Linked DNA regions of Homo sapiens: all the other regions are reported to be linked to region 4. Evidence: microRNA targets listed by miRTarBase, many of them from high-throughput screens and not tested one by one. Region 4 holds a microRNA gene; each other region holds the end of a gene's coding sequence. Distances are between the middles of the regions.

Region 1 (3,185 bases), 12 Mb from region 4:
CTACTAAAACTACAAAAATTAGCCAGGCACAGTGGCAGGCGCCTGTAATCCCAGCTACTCAGGAGGCTGAGGCAGGAGAATCGCCTGAACCCAGGCGGCAGAGGTTGCAGTGAGCCAAGATCACACCACTGCACTCCAGCCTGGGCGACAGAGAGAGACTCTGTCTCAAAAAAAGAACACAAAAAACCTGGCAAATGAAATTTACCACACAGAGCAATGCAGAGCATGAAGTCAGGAACTCTGCAGAGGGACCCCTCAATTATCCAGCAGAGGCTGGGCTCAGTGGCTCATGCCTGTAATCCCAGCACTTGGGAGGCTGAGGTAGGCAGATCACTTGAGATCAGGAGTTTGAGACCAGCCTGGCCAATATGGTGAAACCCCATCTCTACTAAAAATACAAAAATTAGATGGGTGTGGTGGCGGGCACCTGTAATCCGAGCTACCCAGGAGGCTGAGACAGGAGAATGGTTTGAACCCGGGAGTTGGAGGTTGCAGTGAGCCAAGATTGTGCCAATGCACTCCAGCCTGGGCGACAGAGTAAGACTCCGTCTCAAAAAACAACAACAACAACAACAAAAACCCCCCAAACAAATAAAATTATCCAGCAGAATACTGATTAAAGACATAAATATGAAGACAAAACTTCCATAAAAAGGAAGATAGGTAAATGTGTGGCTTCCTTAAAATTAAAATGTTTGTCCAACACACAAGGTATAAAGAAAGAGGAGGCCGGCAGGAGTTCGAGACTATCCTGGCCAACATGGTGAAACCCCGTCTCTACTAAAAATACAAGCATTAGCCAGGCGAGGTGGTGCATGACTGTAGAACATTAAACAATCCTTTGAAGAATTTAGCTCTTTTCTCCCTGCCTCCAAAGCCAGCAAATATGAGATTATTTTCTATTGTTCCAGTGACTGTAATAATAGCAGAGGTCAAGGAAACATCTCTTGTATGAGAGTTGTCATGGAATCAGATTTGTTGTAAAGAACCATTTATATTCTGGACTGTCCACCAGAAGAAGGAATACAGACAACATATGCATATATAACTGCAAGATTATTGCCGGTTCCTCTATAGCAGCAATAATCGCAAAGAAAATACTACCAAAACATCCAAAACAGCCACAATAACCATTAGTGATTTTATTGAAGACTTATTCACAGTATTTTGACCTGAGAAATGGTGATTTTAACATACCCTTTTAGGTGCCCACATTGATCTTAGTTAACAGTCTTGTAGTTCCCTCTTTAGGCTTCAAGATAATTGTGATTTCATCGCACCCCAGATACTTCCAAGTGGAGCCAGGCCTCAGACTGTTCTCAGTCACTGCTCTCCCACAGCTGATTACAGACATTGCCTGTGCTTCCTACCCCAGCAGCTGTCTAGTGCACTTGAACCACAAAATGGGCCCTCACTTCTTTCCTAACCCAGCTCCATCTTGGTAAACTGTAACAGACAGACAGGAGTCCCCAAGGGCACAAAATAGTTTCTTTCCAGATGATTTTAAAGGAAGGGGGGAAAAGGAAGCATATGTGCTAATGGAGCTTCTATGGCTGAAACAATTTATCTGCAGATGCCTAGCCACTCACTGATCAATTTGTTATGCGCCGTGACTGAAATCTGTGATTCCATCTGAAGGCAGTGAGAAGTGGTGTTACCATCTGAAGTGGGTCAGGGCTCTTACCTGACTAAGCTGGTACTTTAGCCCATAAGTGAAACAAAATGGCACTTTTTAGGACTACCTCAGATTCGGTTGAATTTCTAACTTCCTGAAATACTTTCTCTCACAGATTCTCTGCTGGTCTCTAAGACTTAAAAGGAGAGAAAATAAAAATATCAAATTAAAGTGACAAGTTAACTAAGGGAGCTGACTACTGGGAGAAAAATAGGAAAGTTGCGTGATCCCAAAACTGGATTTAAAAAAAAAAAAAGTTATTTCAGGGACACTCATGAGTGGCCACAGCACAAAATCCTGCAGTAGGACTTACCTGGGCTCGACAGTGTGGTAGCAGCATCGGCACAACCTCAAGTGGAACCCAGAGGGGACAAATTCCCTTGAAATTTCATTCAAAATTTTCCCAGGGCCAGTTTTTAAGAGTACCTGGACCTTCGTCAGCCAGAATTTGTTAAGGAAGCAAGAGGGTTTGGTTTAAATTCTGGGAGGTCCAGGCAACATCAGAGCCACTTCCTGTTCCTGAGAGCAGAAGCCAGTGGGTCTCTGGTCCTCCTTGGAGCTCTGCTAATTCTTGCTGGTTTGAGGTTAATATGCTAGAGCACATGCCCCCCAGCAGACTCCTCAACCTCCTCTTGAAGCCAAGAAAAAGACCTATAACAATGCCAAGGTATCTTTTAAGTGCTCCTAAGACAGCTTCAATGCAGCTTTGGACAAGGGACACAAAGCCTCAGAGAAACCATAAAACACCATCCATATGGCACCATAATATTGTTTTGTTCTGAGAATTCTGCCCTTAGTCAAAACCACACAGTCATGAATACATAAACACCACTTTCGGAGCCATCTAATAAAGACTGAGCTCTGCTACACAGCAGCGAGCCTCAGCTCAGGGGAAACAGGGGGAAACCAGGAGAGCCGACCATGGCAAGCGCTTCGCCTGAGTGCAGTGGGAGTCTCATTGGCGAGTGTCCAGTGTCAAGCAGGCCTTGTTTGTAATGGTCTCATCTGAAGAGCTACACAGCAAGGACACTGCAGATATCAAGCCATGCCATCTACATGGTTACAACAGCCAGTGGTATCTAAACTGGGGGCAGCAAGGCCTGTAAAGACTTTAAGAGAAGAAACAGCACCTGGACTGTGAGAAAAAGAGTCTCTGAAGACATCTGACCTGGACAGGCTGCCATCTCTTATGATTATTTCCTGTGTGGCTGTGAAGGTTAACGGGATAAAGCCCTCACTGTCAGCAGAGAGAAGAATCCAGTGGGAATCTGCAAATAAAAATAAATACACAGGCAATTTAGTATATATTATTCTTATGATGAAACATATGACTACAAATTTTTTTTTCTGAGTGAAGGAATATAGTAGTTGATAATATTCAACTCAATCCTTGTAAGATTTTACAGAGAATGGGGTATTGGGAAGACTGGGTATTACTTAGGGTCAGGTAGGAGAAAAAGGGGAAAAAATGAAATGATATTTGATGTTCAATGTGGTGGCTACTGTTACA
Region 2 (3,173 bases), not on the chromosome of region 4:
TTTTTTTAAACAGGTACACTGGAGAACCTAGAAGAACTGTATTTGAATGACAACCCCAACCTGCATAGCCTTCCCTTTGAGCTGGCACTCTGCAGCAAGCTTTCAATCATGAGTATTGAGAACTGTCCACTCAGTCACCTTCCACCTCAGATTGTTGCTGGGGGGCCTTCTTTCATCATTCAGTTCTTAAAGATGCAGGGTCCATATCGTGCCATGGTCTGATATAAATCTGCTGGTCCCACACACTGTTCAAAAATAGACTGCCATTAATGTTTCTTATCTATATCTGTATCTATTTATGTAGATATTGGTATATGGCAGATTTATAAAAATTGCATTATGTGTTTCTGCTAATAGAGGAATCATAGCCATTTAGAATTTTTTTTAAATTCTGTACAAAAGGCTTATATAAGTTTTCTTTGCTGAATTTGATGGATGTTTTTCTGTTGTGTAATCTGATATGCCAGTTTGCTTAAAACATTTGCCAACACATTATGAAGTTATTAAATTTAAGGGACAGAGGTAGTATAGTTAGATATACTTTCTCTTAGGAAAAATAATGGGCAAAAATTTTTGTTGCAACTTTTCATATATATTTTCCCCTTACCAATTGTTTTATCCTTATAGTATTGTAGGCCCTGAAAGTAGAATTTTTCTTTAACTTATTTTGAGATTTGAGATTTAAATTTTATGTATTGTTTACAGTCAGAGTAAATCACTGGATTTCTTTTGTTTGTTTTGATTTGCTCTGTTTTATTCAGTCAAATCTAGAGTTTGAATCCTCTGCTAAAGAATTTGCATCCACTGGTGTAAACAGTGAAAGGTATTTGCTTGTTGAAAAAAAAAACTGGCAAAGTGAAAAGATACAGTCAAAAATCTAGAATTTCTTTAATTTTGCTTCTCTGACGAGTTGTGAAGCAAAATACCTGAAGTGAGTCTTTGGGTAGGGGAAGGGTATTGAGACCTTTTCTAGTATGAATATTTTTTAAGTTTGGGGGAAGAGAAACTTGCAGTGAAAAGGAGTTTTTTCATTCCTGAAAGTTGCAGATCCACAAAACTAACAGGATAATTGGGCAAATAAATTACATATAAACACACACAATCTATATATGTATATACAATGCTATATAGATATGTATTTATTATATCATAAACTACAGTAGGTAACTTTAAGGATTTCTTCCTATCCTTGTACAATGACATGAATGTCTTTCTTTGAAAACTGCAATGTATGTATGTTTCAAGGTTATTTAACAGTGTACTATGGTTTTATATCTTGACTTGCCTTGTACATCTTTCAATTCTGGAATATCTGTGTCTAAGCACAATATCTTCACACTGTGCTGTATTGCTGCTGAACTAAATGCACTTTTCCCCACATATGGGGCACTGGCTTCAAACAATTCAGTTCAGTATCATTACTTTTAATCTCATCTTTCCTTTCTTGGTAGTTGTTAATACAGTTATGGAAAAGAGGCACATTGCATAGAAGCCATTGGGGAGTTCAGTGGAAGTTCTGTAAGATGTGCATGTACTATTTGATGCGTTTTCTTTGCTTCACTGCTTTTAATACTTAGCAGTATTGTTGGTCTAAGTCAATTTGATTATTGAGGAGTCTCAGAGCAAGGTGCGTTCTAGATGTCATCCTAAAAAACACTTCATATATAATTAATCACTATTTTGTATAATTACATATTGCTGCTTGTGTGTTTTTTTTTTTTTCCATTTAGTTGGGCGTTGTGTTTTACACAAAACCATTTTTGAATTAAGGCTATGATATTAAGATAGAAATTTGGACTGTTGTTCTGCTTTTCCTGGCACTCAAATTCATGACTAGTTTTGAGGTCAAACCTATGTTCGTAATGAGAGATTTTATAAGGATCAACTAAGAAATGGAAGGCAGGTGAAGATATAAAACCCTAGAATGCTTAAATGTGCTGTAAAACTATTGTAGATGTCACTGGATTTTACCAAGTAATATCCTTTCTTTTTTTTTTCCCCCCATCTGCTGTGGCTTTTCAGTTAAAATTTTGTTTATAAAAGGAATTTGTTTATTACAGCTCTACCTAGAGCTTGTGTGTTTGTGTGGTTTTTTAAATCTCGTATCCAGGTGTGTTTATATATTAAGATGTTGGGACTTGAACTTTAAAGGTAGTAACTAAATGTCTTTTCTTAAAAAAAATGGTTATTGTTTCTTAAAATGAAAATATGGTTTTTAAAGCATTTTTGTTCCACCTTTATGTTAATCTGTAACAGTAATGTAAAACGATCAGTCTTACATGTAGAAGTCATGCTGTGTGTAAACAATATAATGACAAGTTATAAAAAATTTTAAAGAAGTATAAAATGTATATCCTCTGTAGGCTGTCACCTTGTGAGAGCCCACAAATTTCATTATTTCCCAAGAAACTAAAATGGACTCTGATTAAGATATCCCTGTGAAATCAAGATATTTAATATTTAAATAGTTTGAATATAATAAGGGATATTGTTGAAGACTACATATGAGCTAATACTTTTTCCTGAAACTGCAATGGGACTAATTGGCATATCCAAAAATTTTCCTTTCCTTTAAAGAAATTATATTTAGTCTCTCCATGAGACTCAGCAAATAAAATAAGAATGTCCGAGGATGTTACATTATAAAAACATTGCTCTAAACTTTGCTTTTTGTTAATATGTAGCAGAAAAATGGCAATGGTAATGCCAAGCTGTCCTTTTCTGAGTTTAATACTTTCTAAATCCCACATGATTATTTTATACAGAAAGGAGGAAGTGCTAAATAATTTATGAACTTTATAGATACAAGTGAAAACAGTAGATGATACAGGAAGGGAAAATACACATAAAACATTTATTTGTACTTAAAATGTAGGTATTGCAATGGGAATGATCTCTAAAAAATGTAATTGCAAATTTCTAATTTATCTAATTGTGTAGCTTGAATCATTTAAAATAGATAAGTTATTATACATTAAAATTTATCTAGATTTTCTGTAAATTTTTGTTATAACCTTTTGCTTTTCATCTGTTACTTCCTTTTTTTTTTTCCTTTTTTTTTTTGAAACAGAGTCTCGTTCTGTCACCCAGGCTGGAGTGCAGTGGCGTGATCTCAGCTCACTGCAACTTCCGCCTCCCGGGTTCAAGCGATTCTCCTGCCTCAGCCTCCAAAG
Region 3 (3,185 bases), not on the chromosome of region 4:
ATGTGTTATGTATAATATCACATTATCTCATTAAAAAGCATGTATCTAGCGGCATAACTGTGTGTATTAAGACCTAAAATATAGTATCCTGATACTTTACTACACACTTTAAAGGTGTTAACTTATTTCATCATCCCCACAATTTTCATGAAATAAGAATGATTATTTTCTCTCAGCTGCAAATACATGGCTGAAACACAAAGTAACTGGCTCTAGATCATGTAGCAATTAAGTGACAGAGCTGTGAATCCAGTTTAGATAGGCCTGACTGGAGCACTTCATTATATTGTCTTTCAGGAGTCTATACCTGATCTGGTGGTCTCTGTATTGGGGTTGCTAACCAGTGCAATAAGGTAAGAAAAAAGGTAAAGCAATTGGGAAGAAGCAAGTATTGCCATATTTTCAGCTTACATGACTATGCATATACAAAATCCAGAGGAATCTACAAATTACTAGATTTAAGAAATAAACTTATTGAGTTTACTAAACATCGTAAGACTACACACAAAACTTAACTGTATTTCTGTGTACAACAATAGAAAAGAAAAAATATTTAAAATATATTATTAAAATCACTAAAACCACCAAAACAAGATATACAAGGTTTTTAAACTAAAAATGTCAAAACATAGCAATTAAGTTAAAGAAATTCTAGTTACATGAAGCGATACATGATGAACATTGATTAGAGATTCAGTAGTAAGTTGCCAGTTCTGCATAAGTTGATTGATAGACTCAATGTGGTCCCAGTAGAAACCTCATCAGGATTTTGTAGAAATTGAGAAGCTGTTTCTAATATTTATATGGAAATCTTGACTTTAAGAAGAACAAAGCTGGACTATAGTTACAACTATAAATGTACAATAATTAAGATAGTGTACTGTTTGACACAAGCATCAACAAATAGACTAGAATAGACAGCCCAGAAACAGACACACACACATACAGTTACCTAACTTACAAAAATGCACCACCCTAGTTCAGTGGAGGAAAAATGGTCTTTCCTACATAGTGCTGTCTCAAGTGGATATCTATTCTACCAGGAATAGATAGAATGTTTATTAATAAAACTATTAGAAAAAAATGGAAAAATATCTTCATGATTTCAAAATCATGAAAAATCTCTTCATGGTTTCAAAATCATGAAAAATATCTTATGATTTTGGGATGGGCAAAAATTTCTTAAACATGACACAAAAAGCACTAATTTTGAAAGAAAATATGAATAAATAAGACTTTCTCAAAATTAGGAAATTTTGTTCATCAAAATTCAACATTAGGAGCAAGTCAAAAACTAGCAAAATATTTGTAATACACATTAAAAAGGACATATTCAGAATGTAAAAATAACTTAAAAATCAGTAAGAAAAATATTGGCTAACTAATTTAAACAAAATACAAAAATGTGAACGGGTACTTCACAAAAGAAGATACCCAAGTGCCCAATAAGCATATAAAAAAGTGTTCAACCTTATTACATGTTGGGGAAATACAGATTAAAACCATGGGGAAATATCACTTTACATCCACAGGAATAATGAAAATCAAGAGAACTGAAAACATTGACTTTTTACAAGCACATAGAGCATCTAGGACTGCCACACATTGCCGGTAGGAGCATAAATTCATACAATCACTTAGGAAAACTGGTAATATCTACTAAAGCTGAATACATGCTTTCCTCATCCTCTACCAGTTCCACTCCTGGATAGGTAGTGAAATTAGTGCACCATGTCCACCAAAAGACAAGTCCAGGAATGTTCGTGGGTTCTCTTCCTCATGGCCAAAAATTGGAAGCCACTTAAGTGCCTATTAACAATAGAATGGATGAACTGAGGAATATTAATATAAGGGAACCCTACATGGCAATGAAAAGGATGAAACTTTTGTACACATGACATGAATGAATCTCACAGACTTAATTCTGAGTAAACAAGACATACAACATTACACACAATATGATTCCAACTATACAATGTTTATAAACAGACGAAATTACTGTGCAGTCATGGAGGTCAGAATAGTATTTTCCTAGGAGTTAGTACTAGGAGGAGTTATAACGGGGCTTCTAGGGAGTCAAAAATGTCCCATATCTTAATCTAGAAAGTGAGTATATAGGTATGTATGTGTGTGAGAATTTGTGAAGCTGTTTGCTTGAGATTTGTTATTTATGTTCTTTACATGGTTTAATATCTCATTAGAAAGAAAACAGAGTTCATAGAGAAAGTTACAAAATAGATTTTCTTAATACCTGAAACTTGGTAAAAAGCTGTGGTATTAAACTGTGGTGATGTCATTAGGGGAGCCCTCTACCCAAACAGAAAGGAAGGCTCAACAGAGCACAGGTGTTTGTTGTAAATGGAAAAATAAATCCGTCTTATTTTCATACTGCAGCAAGTTAACACTATCGAAAGCATTACAGATTAATTAAACTAGATAATTAATGTAGGATGCAAAAGATAGGGCCTCATAGTATATATTAAAAATATTATATAATTAGCATGACTACTACTGCTGCTGCTAACTACTACTACTACTATTATTGCTTTGTTGGTGCTGTTAGTGATCATTTTTAGTGATTGCCCACAAAAGGAACAATACTGGATATGAGGAAATTGATATAATTTATCTTTTCAAGCATACTGTGGGCCTGTGGGTTGCAGTAAAAAGACAAGGAGGGCCTGAGTGATATGACCCTTCAGATAGGGAACTCACAGACGGCCAGATGGGAGGTGGAGCAGGGGACGTCATTCCACTGGCCATTTTTCAGTAGCAATACACAATCTTCATCAGAACCAGCATTGTTGGGTTCACCCTCGTTCCAGTTTGTGTAGGTCAGTCTATTTCCTGTCAGATCCACAAACTGCCCTTCTGTCTTCTCATCAGTGATGCCCAGGAAGGCTTCCTCCTTGATGAGATTCTGAATGGCTCCATTCTCTGCAGCATTCCTGGGGGTGGCCACAGAGGCCTGGAACTTGACACACAAGGCCTTCACTTTTTCAAAGGTCATTATTTCACCATTGGTCAGGAAGAACTTGTTCCCAACTTGTTTGCCCAGAGAGAAGGTGAGCCCTAAAATGTGAAAAAGTGGGTGAAACTGACTCATCCTTAAGCCCAACTCAAGGTATTTCTCAAGAAAAAGTCTTCTAGAGTACAGTTGCCGGATAAAATATAGTATGTCCAGT
Region 4 (3,185 bases):
ATAAAATAATAATTCCTCAAATGTGAACACCAGGCCATATCACTGTTTGCTGTTTATGGGGAACTTGACTCTACCCATTTAAGTAAGTGGTGCTTGAGACAATCTGCTAAGGACAAGGGGTCCTGTGATTTTTGCCTGGGACTCTCTTGCCATAATTCAGTCGGTAGATCTAGGCCATTGGAAAAGCCACCAATGTTTGTTTGGGGGATGACAAAAGATTGATGAACAACTTGTGATTACAACTTCTGTATCCTAATCAGAAATTCTCTTGTGTTTTTTTTTTTTTTTTTCTTACAATAAATTTTCTAATCTGAACATGCTGAAAATTTGCCTTTATATTTCCTGGATGGAAATAGTGCACAATCCTTATGCCTCTTTGTGTAACCTCTAGACCCTTCTTGTCTTATCCACTATGAACCAAAGAGCTATTTCTGGGACCCTTTACTCATCCTTCTCTGTTCTCTCTGCTTGGAATTCCATTCCAGGTTCAACACAAATATATCTTTGACATGAAGAGATACCTAATCTTTGCCTTGCCCATTTTAAACCAATAGAATTAAAAATAAATTAATAAAATAAGTTATTCTATCATCAGATATATGTATATCTAGTCTCATAAAATTGTATGTGTGTTTTACAATATTTAGTCCCTGTTTTACTAAAAATATTTGTGGACCCAGCTTGCCTTCCTCATGTCACTAAAAATATATATATTGAGTACCCACTATTCCCCTAAAATATTTACCAAGCACCTTCTAAGAGGCCTTTTAGTAGATATCCAGTAAATATTTTTAAATGAATGAATGTTTAGCTACACCATCCAATACGGTAGCCACTAGCCACATTTAACTACTCAAATTTAAATTAACTGAAATCATATACAATAAAAAATTCATCTTGTACCCCCATTTCAAGTGCTCAGTAGTCACAAATGGCTAGCGACTACAGTATCAGAAAGTGCTGTTATGGGACCCTTCATCACAGCAGAAAGCTCTACTGGGCAGTTCTGAATTCAATACATGAATGAATAAATGCCTGAAAGAATGAATGAACAATCCATCAGGAGGCTCCCAAGCCACCCCCTCTGCAAACTCTCTGACTTCAAGGATGGATTAAACTACATAATATTAACATTTCACCTAATTTAGAGATCAGCTTCCACTTAGGGAAGTGTCACAGCTTGGATTATTTAAAAGGAGCTCAGGAAAGCAGTGAGCACATCCTGCAGGCATGGCTGCTGCTGTTCCACAGACCCATCAGCCACATTATGACAGGAGCGCTTTCCAGCTCCAATTTGTCTAATTCTCATCTGTTATATTAACAAAGAATGCCTGGCCAGAACATGTCACTCAGCTCCACAAAGAGCTATTTCCGTCTTCTGTCTTCTTCCAGAACTGCAAAGATTGATTTTAGGAAGATAATCATTTTTGTGTATTTCTGCACACAGGCTGGCTGCAGCTGTTCCCAAATGCAACATCAATACATGTTTTATGAGTCAGTTTTTTGTGGGGTTTTTTTGGTTTTTGTTTTTTTTTTTTTTTTTTTTTTTTTTGGTAACGTGTGAAGCTAATCATGTTGAGTACGACATAAAAAGCATTTGCCTTGAAATCTCAAGCGCTGTGTCCCATCACTCAATCTTGCTGTGAGCACAGATTTCCTTGAAATGTTTCTGGTCGGGACTGAATGTGTTGAATCTCAATTTTGTATTTCAGCTCCATTCTACGATACAGCAGGGTGAGAACGTGAGTAGCCTTCACAGTTGGGCTTCTGTCTTAGCCTGAGCCATTGAGACAAAAAAACCTAAGACTTTATTTGGGATGTGCAAACCCAGGAAAGAGAGGAAGAAGTGAAGTAAAGGCAAAGAAATCTGGGATGCCAGGTGAAGTGATGCATCACCTTGCTGCTCCTTCCCCACAAGCCTTGAAGTTACAACTGGCAGCCCTAGGCTTGTCCAGGAAAATTACAACGAATATCTCTGTCTTGGGGTAGCACATGGGAGAAACACAGGAGGGGGAATAACCCAGCTAGCTCCTTCCTATTTCCTGTTTCCATTGATCCATTTGCCACTTGGACAGTTAACACCCTCAGAATTCCAGGTTGCACTGGACTCCTGAACAGTAGCTCATGACACTTCCAGTAGTGGATGAAGCACTGTGTGCACAGTTGGCCCTGCACAGAGTGCATCATCCACTACTGGAAGTAGACAAGTGTCTCCTTGAAGATGGGCTTGGTGTGCAGGGCTTGTGAGCCAGGCAGGCTGGGGACTTCCAGCCATCTCGTGGACGTCCCATCAGAGGTTGTTGGTAAGCAGGTCTGGGAGGCAGGCTGTGCTTTAGAGGGAAGGAGACAGTCAGATAGTGAAGGGAACCCAAAGGGGCACAGGATTTCTTCATCCAGTACAGCTTCTCTGCTCGCATGCTTACAGGATTCATCTTCCGTGGCAGGAATTGTTATTTTTAAAAGGAAAATTATGTTCCTCTCCAGGCTCTTTAAAGTATGCTATCCTGATAGAAAAGGCCTTACAGGTAAGCAAATCCTAGTCCTCCAATGTTGCATGTATAAAAATTAATATTAAATAATTGGTGTATGATAGACTAGAGATGTTAAATACCTCGCTTACTAGAAGTAAGTGCCCCCTCCAGCCAACCAGGAAAAGGAGCTCAAATGTTCTAATGCTTCTGTTGCCTCTCTGTACAACAGATAAATCATGTTTATGCAGTGATTGGCGAAGGAAATGAGCATGCAGCAGTGACGCCTGATGCTGAAAGGTGTCACTGGGGTTGCTCCTAAGGAGTCTGAGAGCCTCCCAGGAGCTGGGGTCCACTCAAACCTGGAGGCTCTTCATGCAGCATGCTGAGAGCTCTAGATAATCTCCAGGTAGGTGAGGCCCAGGGAATGTGGGGAGAAGAAATAATGGAGAATCTCACTTTCTAGAACCTGGAGTCAGGTGCCTCAGATAACTCCGAGGGTCAGGAAGATGAAGCTCAGTGTGTGCAGGGAAAAGAGGCCTGCATTCAGATGGGGGAAGTGTAGGAGCATTGTGCATTGTGGGGACGGCACCAGGGGACCCCAAAAACTATAAGCTTCAGTAGTTTGAGGACAATTTAATGAAGGGCCAATGGTATCCATCATGTTAAAGAGGTAAGAGGAGCACTAAGGTTGTTTAACAGAACATGGATGTGATC

The links. The annotated mature microRNA hsa-miR-3681-3p reads ACACAGUGCUUCAUCCACUACU and lies in region 4 at 2,136-2,157, opposite strand. An mRNA with a match to its seed (bases 2 to 7 or 8) in the 3' UTR can be bound and repressed. Matches are read on the target gene's strand: a 7mer-m8 pairs with bases 2 to 8, a 7mer-A1 pairs with bases 2 to 7 and ends in A, and an 8mer does both.
Region 1: miRTarBase lists WDCP as a target of hsa-miR-3681-3p. Seed matches in the 3' UTR shown: 7mer-A1 at 1,158-1,164.
Region 2: the mRNA of SHOC2 is a reported target of hsa-miR-3681-3p. Seed matches in the 3' UTR shown: 7mer-m8 at 1,337-1,343.
Region 3: the mRNA of MBL2 is a reported target of hsa-miR-3681-3p. The part of its 3' UTR that is shown has no 7-base or 8-base seed match.

Annotation. Positions count from the first base shown.
Region 1 is chr2:24,028,220-24,031,404 of GRCh38, forward strand. WDCP (WD repeat and coiled coil containing) reads right to left here. Exons shown (of 4, transcript NM_025203.3): 4 at 1,128-2,943. The coding sequence ends at 2,714. Among named protein-coding and RNA genes, the nearest start is that of WDCP, 18 kb to the right of the region's middle.
Region 2 is chr10:111,011,597-111,014,769 of GRCh38, forward strand. It overlaps SHOC2 (SHOC2 leucine rich repeat scaffold protein), which reads left to right. Exons shown (of 9, transcript NM_007373.4): 9 at 14-2,069. The coding sequence ends at 222. Among named protein-coding and RNA genes, the nearest start is that of MIR548E, 24 kb to the left of the region's middle.
Region 3 is chr10:52,765,439-52,768,623 of GRCh38, forward strand. MBL2 (mannose binding lectin 2) reads right to left here. Exons shown (of 5, transcript NM_001378373.1): 5 at 1-3,072. The coding sequence ends at 2,699. Among named protein-coding and RNA genes, the nearest start is that of MBL2, 5.8 kb to the right of the region's middle.
Region 4 is chr2:12,198,146-12,201,330 of GRCh38, reverse strand. It overlaps MIR3681 (microRNA 3681), which reads right to left and starts at 2,201; the gene lies at 2,130-2,201. The region is part of intron 3 of MIR3681HG (MIR3681 host gene); the gene reads right to left.